Regions from separate parts of the Homo sapiens genome. Here region 1 is linked to region 2. Evidence: fine-mapped expression QTL. A gene starts in region 2. The other region holds a variant in brackets. All regions are shown on one strand. Distances are between the middles of the regions.

Region 1 (2,922 bases), 69 kb before region 2:
GGATAGTTATGTACCCCTCTTGGCTCATCTGATAAGTGTATAACGCCTGTTGAGTGAGCAGATTAATCTTCTAAAATGGTGCCAGAGGTCTAAACCTTTGGTTAATCCTTTGGCCTAAAAAACTTCAAACAATTTGGTATATTCTACCTTCAGAACTTTTTGAATTTGCACCCGAGTAAGTCTTTCATACATACTACTTACCAAAGTACACAAAAGGATGGAGAATTGGTTTTATGTCTGTATGCAGATTGCAATACTCGTCTTTGCAGTGCACCTCCTGGTAGACAGTTTGCTGGGGCAGGGGTGGGCTGCCTACCTCTAATTGTTAGTAACTACTGAAGTGCGTAAAAAATGATATGACACATGTGAGTTGCCAATTTCATTTAGGCCCATTTCCAGCAGATGTATATCTATCTCAGGAAAGGTTTAATTTATTAAGTGATGAAGTAAATGATTGGATATGCCAATACAAAATACTGAAGCGCTCTTCAAAATCTAAGAGAGTGAGCAAAGCTTAAATGTTTTTTACAATTATGCTAATCATAAATAAATCAAAAAATACATATACAGAGAGAAATAAAGATGGTTTCACAAATTTTAAATCTACCAACAACTAGCAATGAAAATCTAAAAAGACAAAATGATACGGCTTTTACAATTATACTTAAATTAGTATTATAACTTAAATGATCCTCATACCTTCATTATTTCTTTTTGTATACATGTAATAGTTACATACAAAAGCATCTACAGTTTTGGTATGTGGATTTATATATTTCAGTAATTATATAAAATTTTGTTAGCTGGTATGAACTGAAAACTCAGTTTCTTGGGCAGCAGTTCTGGTCTCAGTCCAGATATTTTGTCCTTAGCTGATATACTTTGAGTTTATTCTTCCTATGCATGTTTCGGGGGTCAGTCAGAGCTGTGGGTACGTTGATTTTGGACATCCATTCTTGGGTTGTTTCCTTTGAGAATTTCCTAGTTTCTTCAATAGCTCTTTTCTGGTTTCTTATTTATCTAGCAGAAAGATGCTAGATTTTTTTCACATGTGCCCCACAACCCCCAAAGAAAAATTACCTAGGGAGTTTCTTTTTCAAAAAAATTGTATAGATTTAGGAAATATGTCCAAGTTCAGTTTTGTTACACGGATATATTGAAGTCTGAGCTTGGAGAGTACTCATCACCCCAATAGTGAACATTGCACCCAACAGGTAATTTTCCAGCCTCAGCCCCCCTGCCACCCTCCCACATAACTTAAGGAGTTTCTACCTCCCCTTCTCTGAGCAAGCCTGCTCTCCCCTGGGGATTTGTCTGCTTCTCTTCACCCTCCAGGGCATCCTGGTTGCGGCTTTTGTTCATGTCCAGCTTTTGTAGTTATTATCACTTATTTTATTCTGAAGCTTTGTCTGGTAGAGATCTAG[T/C]CGATTTTAGTAGACACTTAATATTGACTTCTGTAAGCAGAAGTTCTCCAACTCTCATTCTGACAGGCAACTCTCATCCTTATCATACATCTCCAAAGGAAAAAATATATAAACTATAGATGGGGGAAAAAAAGCAAAGTGCATGTGCCCCAAGCTTCTTAATTAAAACATGTAGCCAATTACATTACTTCATTAATTAGTCATGTTCTATGATGTTTGAATCCAAGAACCGGCATGGGAGAAATAATTGTACTTATTAAATTCATACAGGCATGGTATTAGAAAATAAGTCTTACATTTTAAACAGAAGACACAATCTCTCACAATGACTACTCATGAGAAATGAAAAAATAGCACCTTTACATCAAACTTTTTGTTATCTGAATTGTAACTTATGTGGAGTATTTACTAAGCTTATTGACAAGCTCTTTTGAACCACTGTGTTGACACAATGAGAATTATGGATATAGGAAACAACATAGAATGCACAACAAATTCTTTGTGGCCATTTCAACTCTCTCTGTTTACTTGAGATGTGAAAATTATTTTACCCTCTAGATAAGACCTTAGCTAATGTGTAATGTAAGTGCCTTCATCTATTTACAAACTAGCATCACATATAGAAAGAAATTGGTGTAGGGCAAGAAAGTAGGAATTTCACACCTTTTTGGATTTTCTTGTTAGAGTTTATGATGGGCTTTATTTAATTTTCTCAATCAAGAAACATGAACTGATCTCTTCTGTAAGTAAAACACTGTGCTAAGGAATGAGGACAGAAAAGTGAACGAGACAGAAATAGCCTTTACCCTGATCAGCACCTGTCTAGTGACAGAGGCAGACGCATCGGCAAAATAATTGCCTGACCACTGTGGGCAGGAAGCGAACTCCGTGTTTTATCAGCTTGTCTCTCATTTGCACACCAACCCTCCTATAAATTAGCATCCCTGTTTCACAGATCAGGAAACTGAGACCCAGGAAATTTAAGCACTTGCTCAAGTATGCAGATCTAAAATGAGCGCAGTTGGAATTCAAACCAGTTTCCTTGGACTCTAGCTCCCACGCTGCTGTCAGGATAGAAAGCTGCTCTTCAAGCACATAAGATACACCGAATATGTAAAAGTAAAGCCCTGTGCCATTTCAGAGGAAGGGTTAAGGGACTCCAATTAGAGAGATGTGCAAAATCTTCATGGCCAAGAAAGTAATTTCCTATATAAGCAAAAATACTGGTGTCCAATTGAAATTAATCAAAATCAAATACAAATTATTCCACCCCAACTGCCATTTTAGATACATATACATGCTTCTCCGCAATTATAAATTCATAGCTGGTAAGTTCAAAGAAAAGTGTGTGGGTGAAGATTTACAGAAAGCTTTTTCTAGTTAAAGTGTAAAATGTGGATGGTCCTTAAAATATCAAATATTCCCTGATTCATCACATTGTTTTGGTCTGGTGCATTAATTTAAAAGAAAATGATGATTTGAGACTTTAAGATAAATA
Region 2 (2,922 bases):
TTTAACTTTCTATGACCCAGGTAGTAAGCAAAGTCTAATTCTAACATGTAATGCTTTTTTTTATTTTTCTGGAGTGATGAATAATGCTTCTCACATGGGAGGGCATTATCTACCTGAGGAAACACATATGGCCCTTTTATCTCCTCTATGCTTAATGCACAGATAAATACTTACACACGCACAGAGAAATGCTTCCAGTCACACGATCTGCTCATTGGAGGAAAAAGCACACCCATGCAGCCTGTTACATTTGCCAGCGCTGGGGCTTTGCTCTAAAGCAATGTCTGCTTTGGATGGCAAATTTCATAGTCTCTATTTAATAGGTTCATAGAGGGGATACTCACCTCCAGCTCCCCCAGACTGGATGTTATTCTCTAATCCCTGACTCCTAAAAGTGTCTGTGCCCAAAACATACCTGTTTCTTCTGGACCCTGAACGGCACGCTTATTTCTGCTGTTCTGACTGGAGTTGCCTTCTCCTGGAGCTGGTGGTTCAAAGATCTATGAACAGAAAAACTTCAAGTTATTAGAAAGACAGCTGAGGCGAGGGAGAGGCAGCAGTGTAGGCAGGATCTTGCCTGCGTCTTGCAGCTGCTGCAAACTCACTTTCAGTCCCGCGGTGACAGCTGGAGCTTCCTCCAGGCCGGCCTTGGGGGCTCCTGCTCCTGCTGGCAGCTTCTCCGCGTGGTGGCCCTGCAGCTCTGCCCGGAGGCTGGCCAGGTCCCCTTGCAGGGCGGCCACCTGGTAGAAAGACACCACCGTGAGGCAGCAAGACAGCAGTGCCAGCAGCAAGGTTGCAGCCAGCAGCTTTCCGTCTTTGGAGGATCGGACAGAGGGGCTTTCCTTCCGTGGGAGGATGGAAACACACTCCTTCAGTTTCATTTCTTCTCTTTTCTTAAGGCAAGAAGTAAGGCGTGACTGCTCCCTTTCTGTGGAGTCATCCATATCACTACTTGAACTTTGAAGGTTGGGGCCTTTAGAATAAGTGACCACAGGGAATGGATCATTTCCTGTTATCTGTGTTTGTTGATGTCCTGCGTGCACTACATGGCAGGGCTTGGCTCACCCCTCAGGAGAGTTATCCTGAATTTTCTCCTTTCTGCCTTTCTGCATCTCTACCCCTACTGTACAGTAGGTTTGCTGGCATTTACCCTCCGATTGGATTGCTCAATCTGTCTTCCTCATTTCACTTTCAGTTTTTGTAAGAATTTCAAAGTCTTCTCATAACACTCATGCTCAAGTAGATTTAAAACCCCTTAAATCTGCTGAGGAAACTTGGAGTTTGGATTGGCACAGTCAAGGGAAAGCTTTTAAGATATGCTCAGGTCTGAGAAGCCCACCCTTAAGTGTAGCAAGGGAACTCTGTCTGCTTGGGACCACATGGCTTCATAAGGAAGGGGGAAAAGCAGCTGAAAGTTCCTGCTGCTGTCATAAAAATAATTAATGTGAAGGTCAGATAAGCTAAGTGTTTTAGCATTGAATTGTTCTTAGCTAGAGAGTGATTTATTAACAGTCTTCAATTATGAAATAAAATGGAGAATCCTTGAAGGAAGTGTGGAAGTAAGTCCACTGGGAATTATTCATATTATTATACTAATAATGTCATAAAAAGAATGAGAGTAAATGTTACAGACGTATTTAGGTTAGATATCTGAAGGATTCTCTAAATATAAGTGAATATATTTTTAAGGAAAACATGCATAAACTTTTTCCTTCTGGGACTCATCACTGAAACTCAATCATGCATATGAACAGCCTGTCCCAAGGAGCCTGGTCTCAGCTTTTCTGCTCAGACTTCTGAGGCTTTAAGTCCCCGCTCAATATGATACTAGTTGAGGAGAATCAGCCTTGCCTCCAGCTCCAAATGCCTGACTGCTACCATTAACCACTCTCAAGTAGCTTGTCTACAACTCCCATGTTGACTGTGCCACAGCCTAACAGGTCGGTGTACAAGAGGTCCTTGATCACACAAGAGCCACCTTAGCTTTGGATTTTTCTGTTGTTGACTTGGTGGACCTGTGAGGACTGTTGCATTCATTCTAGTCCTGCCTTATCCTGATGGCTGGTTCCTGGACATTCCCCAGTTTTTCACTGCTTTGCCCCAGCATTGAAATATTGATTCATCTTTCAACAAACGTTACTGAGCACTTACCAAGCCCTGGGTAGTCACTACTCCCCTGTGGACTAAGAATAGTGAGCTTTAGTTCTGTCTCACTCTACATTTCCACACAGTCTTAAGTAAGAAGTTTACAGAAATGATATAGTGCAAAGTGGAGAACTCCAGACCCAGGCTTCTAGACTGCAAATCCTGCCTCACCCTCGCTCTCCTTATGCAAAGTACATAATCTCTCTGTGATTCCATTTCCTCACCTGTGAATTCGTATGACGATATTAACTGTCCCTGGGATACATAATGAGGCTTACAAGAATGTGGAAACAAATTACATTTTGGATGCTTCCATTTAAAAAAAAATTATTTCCACAGGTTTTTGGGGAATAGGTGGTATTTGATTACATGGTTAAGTTATTTAGTGGTGATTTGTGAGATTTTGGTGCACCCATCACCCGAGCAGTGTACACATTGAACCCATTTTTTAGTCTTTTATTCCTCACCCCCCTCCCACCCTTTCCCCTGAGTCCCTAAAGTCCATTAGATCATTCCTATGTCTTTGCATCTTTGTAATTTAGCTCCCACTGTGAGTTAGAACATACAATGTTTGGTTTTCCATTCCTGAGTTACTTCACTTAGAATAATTGTCTCCAATCCCATCCAGGCTGATGCGAACATCATTAATTCATTCCTTTTTATGGGTGAGTAGTATTCCATCATATATATGTATCATAGTTTCTTTATCCACTCATTGATTGACGGGCATTTGGGCTGGTTCTATATTTTTGCAGTTGTGAATTGTGCTGCCATAAA

What was found.
Region 1: its variant is fine-mapped to the expression of TNFSF13B in whole blood (TOPMed, PIP above 0.99).

What each region holds. Positions count from the first base shown.
Region 1 is chr13:108,337,159-108,340,080 of GRCh38, reverse strand. All of the region lies in intron 2 of LOC105370355 (a long non-coding RNA gene), which reads right to left. Among named protein-coding and RNA genes, the nearest start is that of TNFSF13B, 69 kb to the right of the region's middle. The variant T/C (reference allele first, on the strand shown) is at 1,425.
Region 2 is chr13:108,267,918-108,270,839 of GRCh38, reverse strand. TNFSF13B (TNF superfamily member 13b) reads right to left here and starts at 1,122. Exons shown (of 6, transcript NM_006573.5): 1 at 606-1,122; 2 at 416-500. The coding sequence starts at 944. RefSeq lists a silencer at 217-296 and enhancers at 197-705, 657-1,086.